4 linked regions of the Homo sapiens genome follow. The protein of the gene in region 2 purifies or fractionates together with the protein of the main gene of each other region. This does not show direct contact. Each region holds a gene or a part of one and is shown on either strand. Other genes may lie near its edges.

What was found. The genes of interacting proteins can lie anywhere in the genome.
Region 1: the proteins of RNF144A (region 2) and PALM purify together in Homo sapiens (affinity purification with mass spectrometry, with the first as the bait; one large-scale study listed by BioGRID). This does not show direct contact.
Region 3: the proteins of RNF144A (region 2) and RAP2C purify together in Homo sapiens (affinity purification with mass spectrometry, with the first as the bait; one large-scale study listed by BioGRID). This does not show direct contact.
Region 4: the proteins of RNF144A (region 2) and PLCD3 purify together in Homo sapiens (affinity purification with mass spectrometry, with the first as the bait; one large-scale study listed by BioGRID). This does not show direct contact.

What each region holds. Positions count from the first base shown.
Region 1 is NC_000019.10:735,955-741,124, reverse strand, and holds part of PALM (paralemmin-1), read right to left. Parts: intron 5,107-5,170; coding exon 5,047-5,106; intron 774-5,046; coding exon 642-773; intron 1-641. UniProt on the Homo sapiens protein: Involved in plasma membrane dynamics and cell process formation. Isoform 1 and isoform 2 are necessary for axonal and dendritic filopodia induction, for dendritic spine maturation and synapse formation in a palmitoylation-dependent manner.
Region 2 is NC_000002.12:7,041,473-7,045,865, reverse strand, and holds the end of RNF144A (E3 ubiquitin-protein ligase RNF144A), read right to left. Parts: 3' UTR 1,687-4,393; downstream 1-1,686. UniProt on the Homo sapiens protein: E3 ubiquitin-protein ligase which accepts ubiquitin from E2 ubiquitin-conjugating enzymes UBE2L3 and UBE2L6 in the form of a thioester and then directly transfers the ubiquitin to targeted substrates.
Region 3 is NC_000023.11:132,211,758-132,216,927, forward strand, and holds part of RAP2C (ras-related protein Rap-2c isoform 1 precursor), read right to left. Parts: intron 2,819-5,170; exon of another isoform or gene 2,778-2,818; intron 2,690-2,777; coding exon 2,411-2,689; 3' UTR 2,377-2,410; intron 2,199-2,376; exon of another isoform or gene 2,146-2,198; intron 1-2,145. UniProt on the Homo sapiens protein: Small GTP-binding protein which cycles between a GDP-bound inactive and a GTP-bound active form. May play a role in cytoskeletal rearrangements and regulate cell spreading through activation of the effector TNIK.
Region 4 is NC_000017.11:45,124,826-45,129,995, reverse strand, and holds part of PLCD3 (1-phosphatidylinositol 4,5-bisphosphate phosphodiesterase delta-3), read left to right. Parts: intron 1-5,170. UniProt on the Homo sapiens protein: Hydrolyzes the phosphatidylinositol 4,5-bisphosphate (PIP2) to generate 2 second messenger molecules diacylglycerol (DAG) and inositol 1,4,5-trisphosphate (IP3).

The DNA of each region.
Region 1 (5,170 bases), on a different chromosome or scaffold from region 2:
CTCTGTTGCCCAGGTTGGAGTGCAGTGGTGCGATCACGGCTCACTACAGCCTCAACCTCCTGGGCCCAAGTGATCCTCCCATCTCAGCCTCCCAAGTAGCTGGGACCACAGGCACGCACCACCATGCCAGGGTAATTTTTTTTTTTTTTTTTTTTTGGTAGAGACGGAGCCTTGCTATGCTGCCCAGGCTGGTCTCAAACTTCTGGGCTCAAGCGATCCTCCTCCCTCGGCCTCCCAAAGTGCTGGGACTAAAGGCGTGAGCCCTTGGGCTAGCAGTAATTATTTAAACGAATTATTTAGGAGCTCCAGATGGAAGGGCCCGGTTTGCCACCCGGCAAGGACAGAAGCTGAATCTACCTCCGGATTTCCCTCCAGAGCCCAGCTGGGTACCTGGTGCCCGGCTCAGCTTTCAGGCAGCTTTCTGGAGTGGATGAATGATTGGGCAGTGAGCCCAGGGCTGAACGACCTCTGAGCCCAGCTGTGGGCCACAGGGGGTGAGGCCCTGGCCTGAACAGCGTCATCTGCTTCACATCGAATCGGGGTCCTGATTCCGGGGCAGACGCCAGACCCACACGCTGGGAGCACACGTGTTCGGGGCTCTGGCCCAGGTGGAGGGAGGGCAGGGGCCGGGGTGCTCGTACCTTTGGTCTCGTCCTCGTAGACTTTGATGCCCAGAGGGAGCGGCTGCCGAGGGAGCAGCGTGGTGCTGGACAGCACCCTGGTCTCCCCTGTCACCTTGTCCTTCTCCACAGTGATCTCAACCGAGTACATGGCTGGCACGAGAGTCACGGGGTTACACCACGGCCTGCCCGCCCCCGCACCCCCCCGCCGGGCTGCGGCCAAGCCAGGGAGGGGGGAGCCAGCAGCGCAGAGCCAAGCAGCGATGGGGCAGGCGGAGCCGGGGATGCCTGGGCACCTTCTCGACGCGGCCCTCCCCAACTCTACATCCCTCCATAGCTCCCCAGTGCCTGGAGACGACCAGTCTGAACACCTCTCCTTGGCATTTGAGGCCCATCCTGCTGTCCGCCCAGATGGTCCTCGTCCCTGTACTCTGCACTGTGTCCTCTGTTTCGCCACCAAACTATTGTCTGTCAAGCTCAGGTTCCAGCCCAGCCCATCTGGAAAGCCTTCATTGTTCCCGGATCTTTTTAATTTTTTTGAGATGGAGCCGCCTTGCTCTGTCGCCCCGGCTGGAGCACAGTGGTGTGATCTGGACTCACCTCCCGGTTCTAGCGATTCTCCTGCCTCAGCCTTCCACGTAGCTGGGACTACAGGCGCCCGCCACCACGCCCAGCTAATTTTTGTATTTTTAGTAGAGACGGGGTTTCTCTATGTTGGTCAGGCTGGTCTCAAACTCCTGACCTCAGGTGATCCACCTGCCTTGGCCTCCCAAAGTGCTGGGATTACAGGCGTGAGCCACCGCGCCCAGCCTATTATTTAAATAGATACAGGGTCTCCCTCTGTTGGCCAGGCTGGAGTGGAGCGGCACGATCACAGCTCACTGCAGTCATGACCTTCCTGGCTCACCCCATTCTCCCACCTCAGCCTCCCAAGTAGCTGGGACCACAGGTGTGCGCCACCACACCCGGCTAATTTATTTATCTTTTTTGGAAATGGGGGTCTCACTATGTTGCCCAGGCTGGTCTCAAACTCCTGGGCTCAAGCAATCCTCCCACCTCAGCCTCCCAAAGCCCTGGGATTATAAACGTGAGCCCTCGAGCCCCACCATTCCTGGTTTCTCAGAGGAGCAGGTGAATCCCAGAGAGATCCTGCCTTGCCCGGGGTCACGGCGGAGACTGGGGCTCAGTCTGCAGACCCACAGCCCCCGCCCCGACCATCCAAGCTCCCAGGACTTGACGCCTCCTTCCAGCCAACGGTTGGACACGCCGTCATCTATTTAGACTCAGAATGAAGGAACCCTCCTGAGATAGTCGAACTTGCTACTCATCAGGGCCCTAACTCCACAGCCAGCACCTCGCCCCACTCTGTAAAAATCATTCCTGCAGAAACCACACAGAGCCTGCATCCTAACAGCGACTGGTGGCTGCCCGCCACCCCCAGGCCTGCTTGAAGATGACGAGCACTGGGGATCACCAGGCACCTCCCTGAGACCCCGCCCCGCAGCGGGAGCTGAACAGGGCTGCCAGGACTGGCCTGACCCATGACACTGCACCCCAGGTGCGGCCCAGCCTCAGGGCCTTTGCACAGGCTGTTCCCAATGCCTGGCACACCCCCCAGATAGCTGCATGTCCTCACCACTTCTGAGGGGCCATCGGTCCCCATCGTGGGCAGCCCTGCCATCGCCTGGCCCCTCGGCCCCCATAGCCACCTCGTTTCCCTCCTCCCACCCAACCTCGACGCTTAGGCCCGGCTGCGGCCCTGGACTCTGCTCTGCGCCGGGGACCTCGCCCAGGCACTCGGCTCTAATCTCCCGCACACCCATCCCCACCTGGACCTTGACCTGGACTCAGCCCCTATCCACAGGGGCCCCACTCTCACACGTCCATAACACTACTCCCAATCTGCCCCCTACACCTGCCCCCACCCTGGCTCTTCCCACCCGTTGGGGGCAGCTCAGTCCTCCCTCTTTTTTTTTTTGAGACAAAGTTTTGCTCTTGTTGCCCAGGCTGGAGTGCAGTGGCGTGATCTCAGATCACTGCAATCTCTGCCTCCCAGGTTCAACCGATTCTCCTGCCTAAGGCTCCCGAGCAGCTGGGATTACAGGCACCTGCCACCATGCCCAGCTAATTTTTTGTATTTTTACTAGAGACAGGGTTTCACCGTGTTAGCCAAGATGGTCTCGATCTCCTGACCTCATGATCTGCCCCCCTCGGCCTCCCAAAGTGCTGGGATTACAGGGGTGAGCCACCACGCCTGGCTAATTTTTCTATTTTTTAGTAGAGACGGGGTTTCACCATGTTGCTCAGGCTGGTCTTGAACTCCTGACCTCAAATGATCTGCCCGCCTTGGCCTCCAAAGGTGCTGGGATTACAGGCGTGAGCCACCGTGCCTGGCCAGTCCTCCCTGACACCTCGTTTCTCCTCAAACCCTGGGGGCTCCACCTTCAGAACATAAGGAACCGCCCACTGCTCGCCCCTCCACGGCCCATCCCAGCCTCCTCCCCCAGCAGCCCTGTCCCCTCCACCTGGCACCGTCCACGGTCTGTTCTCCCTGCAGTCACCAGAGGGCGTGGGTGAGCACGGAGTCGGGGCAGTCCCGGCTTTGCCTGCAGCCCCCCATGGTTCCTGCCTCCCTCCCGGGAAAAGCCCACGTCCCCTCCCGCCCCTGCCACAGGGCCCTCAACAATCTCTCCATCATCTCTCCTCCGCCCTCTCCCCCTCCTCACGCTGCTCCAGCCACACGGATCTCCTGGCCGTTCCTCCAACACCCCAGGCGCAGTCCTGCCCCGGGGCCTTTGCACTGGCCGTGCCCTCTGCCTGGAACACCTTTCCCCAGATAGCTGCGTGCCTTGGACACCTTCCTCCAGATAGCTGCGTGCCTTGCTCCCTCAGCACCTCTGGGTCTTTGCTCAGACGTCACCTCTTACGTTGAACGCTCCCCTCCCCTGAGCCCTCTGGTTCAAATTCTCCTTCCTCCAGCTCAACGTCCTTGGCCTCACTTTTCTACCGTAGTAGAGGTTGTGGCCCTCATTAGAATACCCTCTCCCCCAATGCCTGGCATGCAGCAGGCGCTTGAAAGGCATTCTGGGTGAAGGGACGACTGTTTTTCAACTCTATAGCTCTGCACAGCCTCAGCCCTCCACCCCAGACAGCTAGTCCAGAGCTGCCCACACTGTTGAGCAGGTTGTGCACTGCACAAAGTCAGTGGCCACGGGGATCAGCGGGGGACCTGGGCCTCGGTGTCTGCCAGGGCTGGTCTCACTGGCACAGAGGCCCACAGGCACCACCTGCTCTGACAAATGCCTCTGTCTGCTGCATCCTGGGGCAACCCCCACCCTGGACCGTGCTGGAGACCTGGGCCTCCGGGTGGCTCTCCTTCCTTCCAGCCCTGTCCCGTCCTGGGCAGCCACCCCAGAGTCCTTCTTCACCTCCCTGCCTTGCTGCCTTTTCTGAGACGGAGTCTTGCTCTTGTCGCCCAGGCTGGAGTGCAGTGGCACGACCTTGGCTCACTACAAACTCCGCCTCCCAGGTTCAAGCGATTCTCCTGCCTCAGCGTCCCGAGTAGCTGGGATTACAGGCGTGCACCACCATGCCCGGCTAATTTTTGTATTTTAGTAGAGATGGGGTTTCGCCATGTTGGCCAGGCTGGTTTCGAACTCCTGACCTCAGGCGATCTGCCCGCCTCGGCCTCCCAAAGTGCTGGGGTGGGTTACAGGTGTGAGCCACCACGCCCGGCCCTCTGCCTTCTTTCTGTGCTGTTCCAGCTCACTCACATAGCAGTGGTTTTGCCCACTGCGACGATTTCTCATTATTGGGCTCCTGTCCTGTGCCGGGCCCCAGGATGGCGTACTGAGGTCCCACCCCTCTGGCAGGCGGAGAAATTCAAGGCGGCAGACCAGGGGTTCGAGCCTGACTTGAGCACCGTGTGGCACTCAGCGTCAACCCCCACCTTCCCCTGCTTCTCGGAAGCGCAGCGGTGCTGGGGACCTGGCTTGGTTGCCTCCAGGGACGGGGCACCCACTTTCTCCCGGGGCAGCCAGTCCTACTGCCCGAGGACTGGAGCAGGTAAGATTTGCAGCGAGCATGTTCAGGCGTGAGCGCCACCCCCAGCGGGCCCCAGGAGGGAGCCGTGAGATTAGGGTGGAATGAAAGCCGTGAGGTCGCGTCGGTTAGAGCCGCCATGCGTGGGGCCCGTCTTCTCGGGGAAGCGTGGGCCGGCGTGGGACCAGGGCAACAAAGCAGAGGGGGCCCCCACCCCAGGCTCGGAGCCTCGGCCTCGGTCCAGCTGCCACCCCCATAACCACGGCCCCGTCAGACGCTGCGGAGAGCAGGTCGGTGTCGCCCCCGCCCCACCCGGCCCCCCGGACCGAGACTTGGTCCCTGACAGCGGCTGGATCTGGGGCCCAGAGCCTGGGGGCCAACCCACCTGCCTTCATCATGGGGGAGCCGTCAACCGTCCTCAGGGGCGTGTTGGAGACTCGCTTGTCTGCACGGGAGGTGGAAGCGGAGAGAGAGATGAGGGTCAGAGGAGAGGTCACATGGACCCCCCA
Region 2 (4,393 bases):
TGCAACCCAGCGTAGGGAAGAACTGCTTCTGGACTGCACCTGAGGCAGCACCACCGGCAACGGAGCCCCGCCACCTGCTGTACCCGTCCACCTTCTCTGGTTGACCTCCCTGGGGCCAGACAGCCCACTCAGAGTCCGTGCTCCCTCCTATGGAGGTGAGTTGTGTTTCCCACAAAAAGTGTTGAAGCCTAACCCCCAGAACCTGTGAACTTGACCTTATTTGTAAATAGGGTCTTTGCAGATGATCGAGTGAAGATGAGGTCATCAGGGTAGGCTCTAATCCAATATGACTTTGCCCTTAGATGAAGGAGCTGTGTCCACAGGCGTGCACACAGGGAGAACGCCGTGGGAACCTGCAGGCAGAGACTGGGGGTGCATCTACCAGCCAAGGAACACCCAGGACTGCCAGCAGTACCAGGAAGTTGCAGAGCAACACGGGCATCCTCCTTACCGCTCTCAGAAGATTCCAGCCCTGCAGATACCTGAACCTTCAGTTTCCAACCTCCAGACCTGGAAGACAGTAAAGCTCTGTTGTTGTAGCCCCTGGTGTGTGGTCCTTTGTGACAGCAGCCCTAGGACCCTAACTCACTCCTCCCACACAGCCTTTATCATGAAGGTCCAGTTCCTGAGTTCGGCACACTGTGCCCCCACCAGGTCAGACATTTGAGTAACTCTCCAACCCCGACACGCCAGTTGGACCAAACTCTGTGCGCTTGTTGAACTGGGCCCTTCCTTTGAACACACTTCTCAGTTTTGCTTGGCTAGTTCCTACTTGTCTACAAGAGCGAGCTCATACATGGCGTCCTCTGGACAGCCTTCCCTGACCTTCCGGCCTGGCCGAAGGGCTGTGCTGTGCCCGCAAAGCCTGCTGAGCGTGCGTCTACCATTGAACTTATTCCACCTTCTTATGATAATTGACTGACTTATCTGTCAACCCCTTGAGACTAAGAGCTCCTTGAGGGCAGATATATTGAGTCTTCAGTGCCCACTATGAATCACCAGTTAACAAAATCCACTCCCTTAATGTGCACCTGTAGATATAAAGAATGGATTTAAAACTTAAACACAGGACAAGGAACCAGTTGCCTATTCCAGACTTGAGCATCATATGAACGCATGAGGTATAGATTCTCCTCCAAGCTGGAGTGAGGTGAATGAAAATCAAGGTGAACCACCACATCTTCAGCTCATTATTATCTCTCCTACGAAATGAGAAGGATCCATATTTATTCCACTTTCTCCCCACCCCCAGCAGATAAAGGATGCCTCCTGATTTTCATGCTGCAACTCATAAAATGTGACAGGTCTGTAAGGAACTTGTCTTTGCGGATGGAAGCAGAGCGCCCTGAGTGGGGATGAGATGCTTCCTGATGCTGCAGTACCGGTTGGGCACCACAAGAGGGAGCCAGGAATGGCTGGACGGGTTGATACACCCAACAAACCAAGTAATTTTGGCATCTAGGAGTTGAGAACATTCCTAAAACAGAAAATCTCAGGATACAAGAGCTGTTTTCCCAGTGATATAAGATCCCTCCCCTGCCTCACCCTTTCTCCCTCCACCCCCAGTTCCCACATTGAATATTTTCAATCTTCAATAGATTAAATATTGAAGACTGAAGATAGAATATTTTCCATCTTCAGGCCAGTAGTCAGATAAGCATCTACAAAAGACGGAGCCACGCGGGGTTTACAAAAGTCACCTGTATTCCAGCCAAAATAGCTTTAAAAAGGAATCCCTGCTAAAGGGGGGGACAAACTACGTAAGACACAATACATTTAAAATATGTATTGAAATTACAAATCAAACTTTTTCCATATGATTCCAGAGTACAAAACACAACATTAAAAGGCATTCAAACAGCTCTTTTATACATCACAGTGTTAGTGGCACAAAATGTACTGACATTTCAAAAACACAAATCAAATCTGTTTTGATTTTGTTTCACCACCACTTGTCAAATACATAACGTATACATGTGCATGACTCATTCATGCATATTTTTATACAAGATTAAAATACACCCATAGTAAAGTGAGCAAAGAAGGAAAGAAAGGGCAGGCATGGGGCATGTAGCTACCCCTCACTGAAGGCTCCGGAACTGTGGAAGACAGAATTGCACAAATCAAAGGAAGGGTGGAGACCCTGGGTTTTTTAAACATCAAGACGGCATGCTCTCCTAGTTGTGAAGCATTAGCAATTAGGTTTTAACGCAGGCCCCTTTGTTCCTTTTGGTGTTTTTGGTAATACCTGTCATAATCCCTTCATTTTGTTTATTTTCATAAGGGCTTAGGTTAATTATCAGAAATAAACAAGCTTTGGTATTTTTTAAAGAGAACTTCATGAAGCTTTACACATGCAAAATGTTTTCCCTTGATGATCTCCTTGTGATTTATATATATACACAGGTGTGCTCACTAATAAATGAGAATCTGAGACACACACACAAAGCCCATCCTGGATCCTTTCAATCCCCTAATTTTTAAAGACTACCAAGAAAAAAATGTTTTTTTAATTTGTAAAATGACTTCTAACTTTTGCAATACAAATGAAAACAATAAACTCATCTTGAAGTAATTTTTGCATCTCTGATAGTCCCTCCCACAGGTCCTGTGTTCTAATCAGGAACTGGCCTGTGCCCTAAACTGGTTTTATGGAATAATATGTTGTCAAGATCATTTGTTCCCCTTTAAGAAAATAGGCCGGGTGGGGTGGCTCAGGCCTGTAATTCCAGCACTTTGGGAAGCCGAGGTGGGCAGATCACCTGAGGTCAGGAGTTTGAGAGTAGCCTGGCCAACATGGTGAAACCCCGTCTCTACTGAAAATACAAAAATTAGCTGGGTGAGGTGGTGGGTGCCTGTAATCCCAGCTACTTGGGAGGCTGAGGCAGGAGAATCGCTTGAACCCGGGAGGCAGAGCTTGCAGTGAGCCGAGATCCTGTCATTGTACTCCAGCTTGGGGGACAAAAGCGAAACTCCGTCTCAAAAAGAAAAAAAAAGAAAGAAAATGCCAGAGGTGGCAGATGTTGGTTCCTCTGTCCACAGCTACTCCTATGAGTTGAGGAGGAAGAACTAATTTGGACAGTTATTCCTGCAATCCGATGCTTTATCTCAGATCCTAAGTCAGTCTCTGCTACGTGGACATCTATGGTGACTGCATCTTTGCAAGGTGCTGACCTCCTATGAGGCTGCAAGCTCATCTGGCTGGGCTATGGACTACACAGCAGAGCCAGACTGAGAGGTCAGGCATTTCCAGCAAAACCTCCAAATGTGGTCAGTTACTCAAGGGCCTCAGAGAAGCCACAGGTCCACTGGGCTAAGGCCAGTCCTCACTGGCCACCCACCCTGGGCGGCAGTACAGCAGCCATGGTTGTCTAAGGGCCTTCGCCCCTTACTCCCCAGGATTAAAGGCCTCTTAGTGAACACATGCCATATGCTTCTGGGGCTTGCAGTGAACACCATCTGTAAGAGTGAATGCCATTTTTCAATGGAGACAAATTATGCCGCTTCACAGGAATAAGTCCGTCCACTCAACGCAGAACTCCCCAGGTTTTACTGGGGAATGATGGCAAGATCAAAGTCCAAACCCAGGGCCATCTGCCTGTGTGCTATTTCCATTTTACATCAAGCAGGGTTCATACTGTATTCCCATCAAAGATAAGTCTGGCACTCCTTACTAAAACAGAAGGAAATGCGAGTTTATGTATCTCAGAGTGATCTTGCTGGTATTTATATAGGAAATGGACAATTTTAATTTTATATCTAGATCAAAATGAGGAAACTGAGGCATGCTTCATACAAAAAGTCAGAGCCAGTAGGTGCCAATTTGACTGCCCCTGGCTGGCCCCAGAATCTCTGTGGTCCCTATCTGGGTTGAACTACGTGCTTGTGAAACACATCAGAGGTGAAGGCACAAGGATGGCTGGGGCTACAGATGTGCATGACTGGGCCAGAGACTCTTCCAACAGAACAGCCTGTCCCTCTAGAAATAAGGTCATCTGAGCTCTAGCCCTGGGGATGCAGCCTTTCCAAAGGCTCTGACTCTCATCCTAAGGACGGGGGTGCTACTGTGTGGGCTCATGCGATGGGCAGCAGCAATTTCAGGCAGGAAGGATGAGCATATGGTGGAGGCGTGTCCTGTGGGCCACTGGACACAGGGCCACAGGCCTCCCATGTGTGCTGGGCATGTTAAAGGGCAGTGGCTGGACAGCTGCATCCACATATCACAGGCTGAGGGCTCAAGCCCAGCCAATGACTCCCGCGTGGAGTTGCCACCCACCTCCAGAAAAGCTATTCTAACAGTAGACACCATCACAGCACCACAAACGACAGAGAGCCACAGCCCAGGTTCCATCCAGAAAGGGAGTCGCAGGCATGTTCTTACTGAGTTACTAAA
Region 3 (5,170 bases), on a different chromosome or scaffold from region 2:
AGTGTTTCTGATTTACATCCTATTATTTCTAACTTGGACAAGGTACTCTTCTAAATATTAGCGACAAACATTTCTCAAATCAACTTTACCTGTCAAAGTTTGATATTCAATTTAGATCTGGGTCTGACAGATTTCAAAGCTCCATGACTCAAGCTATAGGATTCAAAATCCACCATCTATTTTCTTCTCTTCTTAGGTAAATGGTGAGCAAGGACAACCACAAATTTTACTAGCCTCAGATTAGAGATTCCCATATATGGGAATCAGTTCAATTTTATTTGATGTCAGAAAAAAAAAAAACCTGCATATAGTGCACTTTGTTCTAAAAGATCTTGGTCAGGGAGTTCCCCTTAATATTTTTAGAAATTCAGTTTATTGGATATTTTATTTCAAGGCTAATATCTTCATTTATATATTCTGCTTACAAAAACAAACAAAAACCTACACAGAGAACTTGACCCACTACTATAAAAATGAATATAGGTATTAATAATTTCCATTTTTAGTATGTTAATTAACAAAAAATACAAATATAGTTGGCTTGAGATACTAAAAAAAATCTATGTACTCATTCCTGTAGGTAACTAAATAGGTTAAAAATAATTCAGATCACAAAAAGTTACCAAATGAAATAAACTCAGAAATGATTCAGAAGAAGAGGTTCAAAAATAGCTTTAGAAATTATTCACCTGCCAATTTGGCTGAGAGAGCTGGCTCTCTACATGTATGAGACCAATTTTATTCAGTTAACCTCCTATAGCTGTCTACACTAATGATGGAAGGAAAACTGGGAACATTTCGTGGGAGTTGGTTAATTTTTAAAAAGATGATAAAACTAACACAAAATGTGTATAGACACTTACGTTATCTGCCCAGTAAGTGTCAGGTAGAAAAATAGAGCAAAACAGTAAAGACACAATCACCACACAGAACTTGTTCAATTGTGAAGCTGGCTTACAATTTAAGGAGAGAGATTACAGCAGCAAGAATATGGGACTTGATCCATAAGCCTCTCCCCTCCTCAAAAGACTATACTGCAAGTACAATGCTATCAACCAAACACAAGCTGGACTATGGTCTGAAAAGTGACTTTATAAAATAATAGATGTAGCTAGACATAAGAAAATAAATGAGTTTTCATCATATTCTGGTATGCTAAAGGCTGATGAGTGAAAGCATTTTAAATAAAGCATTGTTGTCATCCTTCATTTTCAAAGATGACACTATCTGACAGGAGACCTTGTCTGAAAAGATAAATTAGGGACCGTTAGTCTTTTCTCCGGGGAGCATACACAAAGCCAGACCCTTGATTAGGAATCATTGCTCCAATCTGAAATGCCTGTTGCCATTTGCAACACTGCCTCCTAGACTCGAGGTCAGCCTTGGCTCAGGAAGATCAATTTCATTCCTGATACTGTCAGGCTAGTCTGGCATTTGCTGCGGTTTCTCAGTCATTCACAATATTGGTTGTTTTATCTTATTATCTAAGTGTTACTGTCTAAGTGAGACTATTTGCTCAATTACAATCTAGACTAAAAGATCATGGCATAAATAATCTTGTTTTAAATGCTTCGTAAGTTTTACATAATCTTACTTTTAAAAAAGTATGAGTTTTAAAAAAAAACTCATTCATTAAAAAAAACTTGTAAGTTATCATTTAACTCAGTGAAAGGCCTGAAGGTTTGTTACTGTTCCTATTAATCTCATAATTTATTAAATTGAATAAATTTTTTTATGCATGAAACTGTTCCTTCTAACACATCACAGATAATTCAACTAGATTATCTTTTGGACCGTATATTTATAATGAAGTCAGGGTACACTGTGGCACTATAATTTGTTATTATCAGAGGTCACTTAAGTCCCTCAAGTGTTAGGTACAGATGAATTTGCTTAAATAATTGTACTGTTAATCAAGCACTTGGTGATTAGTAAATTGGTGATTTTAATTGCAGCAATTTGCTTGCTCAGGACATAAAAACATAAAAGTACAGAAAATACCACAAAACTTCTGAAATTATTACTCAGTGCTCTCCTGTGCATTCTGGATGCTAAATCAGAAGAACAGGGAAAAAGTGTATTATGGTTTAACTCAACCCAAAGAAATATTACCAATAAAGCAGAGAAGGAAGAACAATAACTCACTTAAAATCCTGGTGATGGGAATATAAGCAATTTCTTATCTCCGCTTTGCTTATCTGCATTTAAAAAAATTTTCTTCATTGAATGTTGACTATTTTGTGTGATGGAAAATGTTATTTTAAAAATAAAGAAATTTAAGGCAGTGCCATATGTATTAACACTAACCAGCTTTTTGTTTTACTTGATCAAAAAACAAAACACTACCTGATTCATACAGTTCCATCAAAAACTAACCTGCTCGGTATGGCCATGATTGAGGTTATCTTCTTTACTGGACGACACAAGTTGTACAACACTGATCTTGCTTCTCCGGCAGGGATGAATAGTTCATTTGCCTGACGATCTCAGCAAAAAGTTCATCCACCATTGATTTACTTTTTGCCGATGTCTCCATGAAAGGACAGCCCCATTCTTGAGCCAGAGCTCTGCCTTCTGAAGACATAACCTCTCTTTCTGGTTCCAGATCCACTTTATTTCCTACTAGGATTAGTGGGACTTTTTCATATCTCTTCACTCTGACAATTTGATCTCTCATTGGCTTGATATCCTATTCAAGCAATCACAAAGAGAAAGAAAAACATTATGCTGTTTGTATAACCATAACAGAAATATTACAGTATTACAAAAAGTCATACCTCAGTGAGTATACAAAGCTGAATCCAAAATGAAATCACACCTAAACAGAGAAATCGTCATCATTTTGTCCACTGAAGTAAGAACTAGATAATTTCCAGAGACCCTACCTGCTGGGTTTGTCAAGAATATAAAACATGGGTTGCACACTAACCTTGACTCATATAATCACTTTTACCCACCCCCAGTCTATACTGATTAAAAAAGCAAGTTTCCAAATGATTAATCCATTCGTACATAAGGATGTTTGGCCATCTCCCTAAACCTGCCTGCTTGTCATCACTCCTTGTAACACCTGTTATCCTAGCACAGGATTGCAGCATCTATGCATTCCTAGCCATGTAGCAAGAGGGCTTGAGTGAAAGTGTTTTAAGTGGGAAAAAAAACCACTTTGTAATGCCTAGAATAAAAGAGTTACAACCAGATGGATACACTTAAATGTTTTATTTTAAATTGAATGGTATGCATTTATTCCAGTAAAATCAAACACCTTACAATACACTTAAATTCACTAGAAACTACTGTAACAGTGAGCAACTCCTGGGAAGGACAGTGCAAGGGGAGTCTGGGTGGGAAGAAGTCATTTTTTTTTTTTTTGCCTGTGTTTGTTTTTACTACTTGTTTCCCCATGCGTATTACTTTTTCCAAGTAGTTACAACGAATTACAAAAGATAAGAGCGTTAGCAATTCTCCAGTAGCATCAGTTTTGGGAGGTGGGGGCAAGTATTGATTTAATACAATATTATAGACTTAATTATAAAAATCACCATTTTCGGTAATATTTCATAATTTTAAAAGTTTGCCTTAAATAGAAAATGTATGCTTAATTGGAAGTCATAGTAAGTACAGAATATTCACATGTGGGCCTACGGAAAAGCAAGGGACTATGAAAATCTATAAAAATATAGTTATTTGATATTTGCATCAATTTGGTTTGATAATATATCAACTCAGATTTCTAGGTTACGCTTATTTCCCATTGTCTTTATGGAAACATAAGTTCAGCTGAAAATCCAAACTTAGGGCATTTGGGCTCAAAAGAGTTTACACCTCCACTGAAATAACGGCACAGTTTTTCACTCCCAATTCATGTCTATAACACAAATGGATATAACAGAAATCTTATGAAACACCCTTCAAAAGACTCTCAGCCTCCAGAGAGTAAGCTGATAGAATAACAAATCTCCTGAGGATCCTTTAGGGAAAAAATGCCTGTCAAACAGCACCTTCAGTACTTTGGTACTTTCTGGGGGAAAATGCTTTTATGATACTATTGTTTGGGAATTTATGCCTACATAAAATGAATTTAGTTTGGTCTCAATAGCTTTGATTTATTTCCCCAGAATTTATCATCTTAAAAAAAAAAAATCCCTGAAGTTGTTCTATCAGGTTACTGGGAAAGTTCACTATAGTACTTTAATTTAAAATACTAAAGAAAGTGGAATTAGCACATTGTATTGGCTAAAGCACTTAAGGTCTCTTAAGTAAGCTACATTAAGTGCATACCTTTAAATGCAGAAAAAATATATCCATTTCCTAAATCAATGGAGGTCAATATAATGGGTCAATATGAGGTTATTCATTTTCAAGGGATAAATAGAAACATACATTGCATATCCTAAAATAACGTTAAACCTTCAGTCTGTTTCCCAGTGAAGGACAGGACAGATTTTCTAAGAGATTGGACCACATCCAGTTTGGCCACCCAGCCGGAGTAAGAAATCTGCACTTGTTCAGTGTTCCCAGACCCACGTATTTTCTGTAAATACAGGCAATGTTACCAGAAACAATTTGGATCAACTGCAGAAAAAGAGTCATTCCTGATTTTTGTTGGTTATTAATTCTAGGTACTAGTCTTTTCTATTAGTAACTTTTCTTCCTACTACACGCCCCAAGTAATTAAGTAAAATGCCTAGAAGGCAGGTCTTGAGTTCTTCGTCTTGCAACACTAAGATTTATGAATCTAGTTGAGAAACTTGAGAGAGAAGGGGAGGGCGGCGGGAGGGGGTGTTGGGGGGTGGGAGGGGAAGGTGTGGGTGGGACAGACACAGAGGACTTATCTGTGCAACAGATAATCGGCTCCAAATAATTTTTTCAAAGTGCTCTATTTACCCGAGATTATTTGTTAGATGTTTTGTCGTGTAAGTTAATCAATACTTGTTGAATTGAGCAAGCAACTTCAGAAGGTTATATTCCAGGCGAAATATACACAGACTGACATTTCTTTTTCACTTTTCTTTCACTTAAAAATAGCTTTAAAATATTTGTTGACGCTTGTTACTTTTTACTACGCTCTATAGAAACAACCCGATAGTCTTCCATGGCAGGAGTAACCTCAAAAATGCGTCATGTCTAACTTTCAAAAGCAAAGCACAGTCATTAATGCACGGTTCAA
Region 4 (5,170 bases), on a different chromosome or scaffold from region 2:
GCCTCCCCCGCCTCGCTCTGCCCCTGCCATCACCACACCCCTTAGCCTAACAGAGAATAGATTTTATATCAAATCAGGTCAAGGGACTAGGGCAGGGAGTGGCTTAGAGGGGCCTGAGGAAGGAAAATCCTTTAGGGCCACACTAGGGAGACCCAGATGAGCGGGGAAGGAGGAAGAAAACACCCCCACAGTGAGTGGGAGTCCTTTGTCCCCCCTCCAGTCCCCCGCTCCTGGGCTGGGCTGCGGACTTGCAGGGAATCATTGAAGAGAGAGGAGCGCTAGAGCCCAGTGAGCACCCGCCATGCGTGAGGCACTGTGCTGAGCTTGCATCAGACCTGATCCTGCTTAATCCTCAGGCATCCCTGTGCGGGAGGTGCTGTCCTCATGTCACATTACAGACGGGAAGCTCAAGGCGGAGGGGTGAAATCACCGCCCAAGGCCACATGCCTGCCTGCTGCCAGAGCCTAGTTTTCCATGATGGCTCCCAGTGAATACTTTTTGTTGTTGCTGTTGTTGTTAGTTGTTTATGAGACAGGGTCTCATTCTGTCACCCAGGCTGGAGTGCAGTGGCATGATCATGGCTCACTGCAACCTCAAATTCCTGACCTCAAGTGATCCTCCCACCTCAGTCTCCCAAGTAGCTGGGACTCAGGAGACTGGGAGACTGGGTACCACCACATCCAGCTAATTTTGTTTCTGTTTTTTGTAGAGTTGGGGTCTCACTGTGTTGTCCAGGCTGGTCTTGAACTCCTGGGCTAAAAGAATCCTCCTGCCTTGGATTCCCAAAGTGCTGGGATTACAGGTGTAAGCCACCATTCTTGGCTAGCCTGATGAATACTAATGAACAATTTTGTCACTGTCCCAGGCGCTTTTCGCATATTATCTCATGTAATGCTCACACTAATATGAGGTAGGTGGTACCAGTAGCCTTCTCTTACAGATGAGGAAACTAAGACTCAGAGAGATTTGGTAACTTGCCTAGGGTTCAAAGCTGGGAAGTAGCTGAGAGAAAATTTGAACCCAGGCAGTGTGGCCCAGAGTCCGTGCTTGTCACACAGTGACTGATAGAGAAGCTGATACCTGCAGGGGGCCTCCTGGCCGCTCCTCTCCCATGGGGGCCCTGCCAGCCCCCAGGAGCGTCCTCACAGGGCTGCCAAATAAAATACAGAACACCCGGTTAAGTTTGGAATTCCGCTAAATGCGGAATATGGAATGTATTTATACTAAAAAATTATTCTTTATCTGAATTTCACATTTAACGGGTGTCCTGGATTTTCTCTGGCCACCCTGTGTCCCCACAGCCCCGTGTGTGCCTGTGCCCTGATGCTCCGCCCCTGCCCCTCATCCTCCCCATGGGCAGAGGCCTGAGTGGGCAGAATCCTGCCCCCTTGCCTCCCCAGCCTACACACACTACCAAGTGCCCCTGAGCGAGAGGGCTCGGCCCATGGCCTGCCTGGGATGTCTTCCGCAGGGTGAGTGGGACTGCTGTGGGTGACTTGGCAGGTGAGGGTCTTCAGAACAACCCCCAGCCCTGGCAGGTGCCTGGCCTGGGTGGTGGGTAAGCTGGGTGGCCCTCCAGTCTAAGCAGGGGCATGCCAGGTGGGACTAGGGGGCTGGCTCTGCCAGGCCCTGTGGTCCCCCTCACATCTTTCCCTGTCCCCTACCCTGACTTCCGCACCCAACCAGGTTTCATGCCTGTTCTGGCCCCAGAGAAAAGGGTGCTGCCACCCCCACTTGCTGTGTCCCACCCGGGGCCAAGGGAAGCACCGCCTGCCTTTCCTGACTTTGTTGATTCTCCAAGGAATGTTATGGACTCTGGCACCGAGCCCCCGCCAGGCTCCAGCCCTGGGTGTGGCAGCCAGCTGGGTCACGGGGGACATGCTTGGTGCCTGAGGTGTGGAGGCTGCCTGCTGGCTAAAGGATTAGGGTGGGAGGGTCTTTGGGACCCCTCGCCATTGTGTGTCCTCTCCTAGAGCCTCACAGCCCCGGCCACCTGGAAACGCTCTTTCTCTACTCCCTGCTCGGCCTTGGCCACAGCTGCTGGCTGTAGCAGTTCCCTGCATGACTCGCATTCCTGTGGAGCCCTGTGTGCACCTCCCGAGTGCGAGCCGCCTATTTCCCCCTGGCTGGCCCACCTTCCACCCTCTCCACCCATGAACCCTGTACGCACACACACACTCACACGCACACACTCACACACATTCACTCACACTCATACACACACACTGTCTCACGCACACACACACTCCCCACCTATGCATACACCCCACACACACCCTGCCCTGCCTGCATGCCACCCCTCCGGGACACGCCTGGACAGAACTCCCACCCTCCCTGCCAGCTGCCCTGGCGCCTGTCTCCACTGCACAGCCTCTATATCCATCCCTGCCTGGGGGCGACCTGCACTATCTTCAGCACACAGGGCTTGTCCTCTCTGAGCTCAGTGGTGCACCTGTGAAAAGGGTGGGATTTGGGGCCCCTTCCAGCTCTGACATGAGGTAGTTTCTGGTCCCTGGTCTTGGCTACCCTTACAGAACTGCTCAGGCCCCAGACCATCCACGCCCCAAACCGCCCGGGCTGCAGGTGGAAGTTGAGAAACTGGGCCTGCCCTTTCCTCAGCACGCCTGACCCCTCTCTGAGGCTGAGATAAGCGGGCAGCTTGGGAAGGTGTCTGAGCCCCAGCTGACAACACTGAATTGGGCGGGAGGTGCCGCTGTCCTGGTCTGGGGAAGGTACCCCCTGGAGGCCATGGGACTAAGGGGACAGATGGATCAGAACACGTGGGTGCCTCTTTCCACCCGGGGCACTAACTCACTTCCCCAGAGCCCTGCCTCAGTTTCCTTCTTTGTGATCATTTACTGAGCACCCACTATGGGCCAGGCCTAAACCAGGCTCCATGTGCTTGTGCCTGTTGTGGCCACACACAGCCCTTTGGGGTCAGACTCCCCCAACTTCCACCACATTTCAGCCCCACCGGGTGCCGACCTGGCTGTCTGCTTCTTTAACAGCATTTTTGAGATATTCATTCACATACCTTATAATTTATCCATTGAAAGTACACAGTGCGGAGCACTTTGGGAGGCAGAGGCTGTTGAATCACTTGAGGCCAGGAGTTTGAGACCAGCCTGGGCATCATAGTGTGACCCCAACTCTACAAAAAAATTTAAAAATTATTCAGGCCTGGTAGTGCAAGTCTGTAGTCCCAGCTCCTCGGGAGGCTGAGGTAGGTGGATTGTTTGAGCCCAAGAGTTTGAGGCTGCTGCAGTGAGCCATTATTGTGCCACTGCACCCCAGCCTGGCTACAGAGCAAGACCCTGTCTCAGAAAAAAAAAAAAAGTATACAATGGTTTCCAGCATATTATATCATTAAACTTTAAAAATTATGGTAAAATAGGCCGGGTGCTGTGGCTCACGCCTGTAATCCTAGCACTTTGGGAGGCCGAGGCGAGTGGATCACTTGAAGTCAGGAGTTCGAGACCAGCCTGGCCAACATGGTGAAACCCCATCTCTACTAAAAATACAACAATTAGCCGGAAATCACTTGAACCCGGGAGGTGGGGGTTGCAGTGAGCTGAGATCGTGCCACTGCACTCCAGCCTGGGCAACAGAACGAGATGCTGTCTCAAAAAAAAAAAAAAAAAAAAAAAATAGGCTGGGCGCAGTGGCTCATGCCTGTAATCCCAGCACTTTGGGAGGCTGAGGTGGGCGGATCATGAGGTCAGGATATCAAGACCATCCTGGCTAACACGGTGAAACCCCGTCTCTACTAAAAAATACAAAAAAAATTAGCCAGGTGTGGTGGCGGGCACCTGCAGTCCTAGCTACTCAGGAGGCTGAGGCAGGAGAATGGCGTGAACCCAGGAGGCGGAGCTTGCAGTGAGCCAAGTTCGTGCTACTGCACTCCAGCCTGGGCAACAGAGCGAGACTCCATCTCAAAAAAAAAAAAAAAATATGGTAAAATATATATAATGAAATTGGCCATTGCAACCATTTTTAAGTGGTTAATTCACTGGCATTAATTACATTCACGCTGTTGTGCAACTATTACTGTTGCCTATTTCCAAAACTTTTTCATCATCCAAACAGAAACTAACCATCAAGCAATAACTCTCCATTACCTCCCCATTCCAGCCCCTGGTACCCTCCCAGCTACTTTCTGTCTCTATGAACTTGCCGCTCTGGGTACCTCACATGGGTGGAATCACATAGTATTTGTCGTTTGGGGTCTGGCTTCTTTCACTTAGCATGATGTTTTCAAGGTTCATCCATGTTGTAGCGTGCATCAGATTTCACTCCTTTACATGGCTGAATACTATTCCATTGTATCGATAAACCATATTTTGCTTATGCACTCATCTGTCTCATATGTTTTTTGTTTGTTTTGTTTTGTTTTGTTTTTTGAGACGGAGTCTCGCCATGTCTCCCAGGCTGGAGTATAGTGGCACAATCTCAGCTCGCTGCAACCTCTGCCTTCCGGGTTCAAGCATTCTCCTGCCTTAGCCTCCCTAGTAGCTGAGATTACAGGCGTGGGCCACCATGCTCGGCTGTTTTCTATTTTTAGTAGAGACGGGGTTTCACCATGTTGGTCAGGCTGGTCTCGAACTCCTGACCTCAAATGATCTGCCTGCCTCGGCCTCCCAAAGTGCTGGGATTACAGGTGTGAGCCACCATGCCCAGCTAATGTTTTATGTTTTTAGTAGAGACAGGGTTTCACCATGTTGGTTAGGCTGGTCTCGAACTCCTTGCCTCAAATGATCCACATGCCTCAGCCTCCCAAAGTGCTGGGATTGCAGGTGTGAGCCACCATGCCCGGCTGATGTTTTATATTTTAAACAGAAACAGGGTTTCACCATGTTGGTCAGGCTGGTCTTGAACTCCTGACCTCAAATGATCTGCCTGCTTCGGCCTTCCAAAGTACTGGGATTACAGGTGTGAGCCACCATGCCCAGCTAATGTTTTTTATTTTTTGTAGAGACAGGGTTTCACCATATTGGTCAGGCTGGTCTTGAACTCCTGACCTCAAATGACCCGCCTGCCTTGGCCTCCCAAAGTGCTGGGATTACAGGCTCATCTGTTGATGAGCACTCGGGTTGTTTCCACCTTTTGGCTTTCGTTTGCCCTCATTTTCACTGCTATTATTTTGTGATTGTCTCCACCCACTCAGTCACTG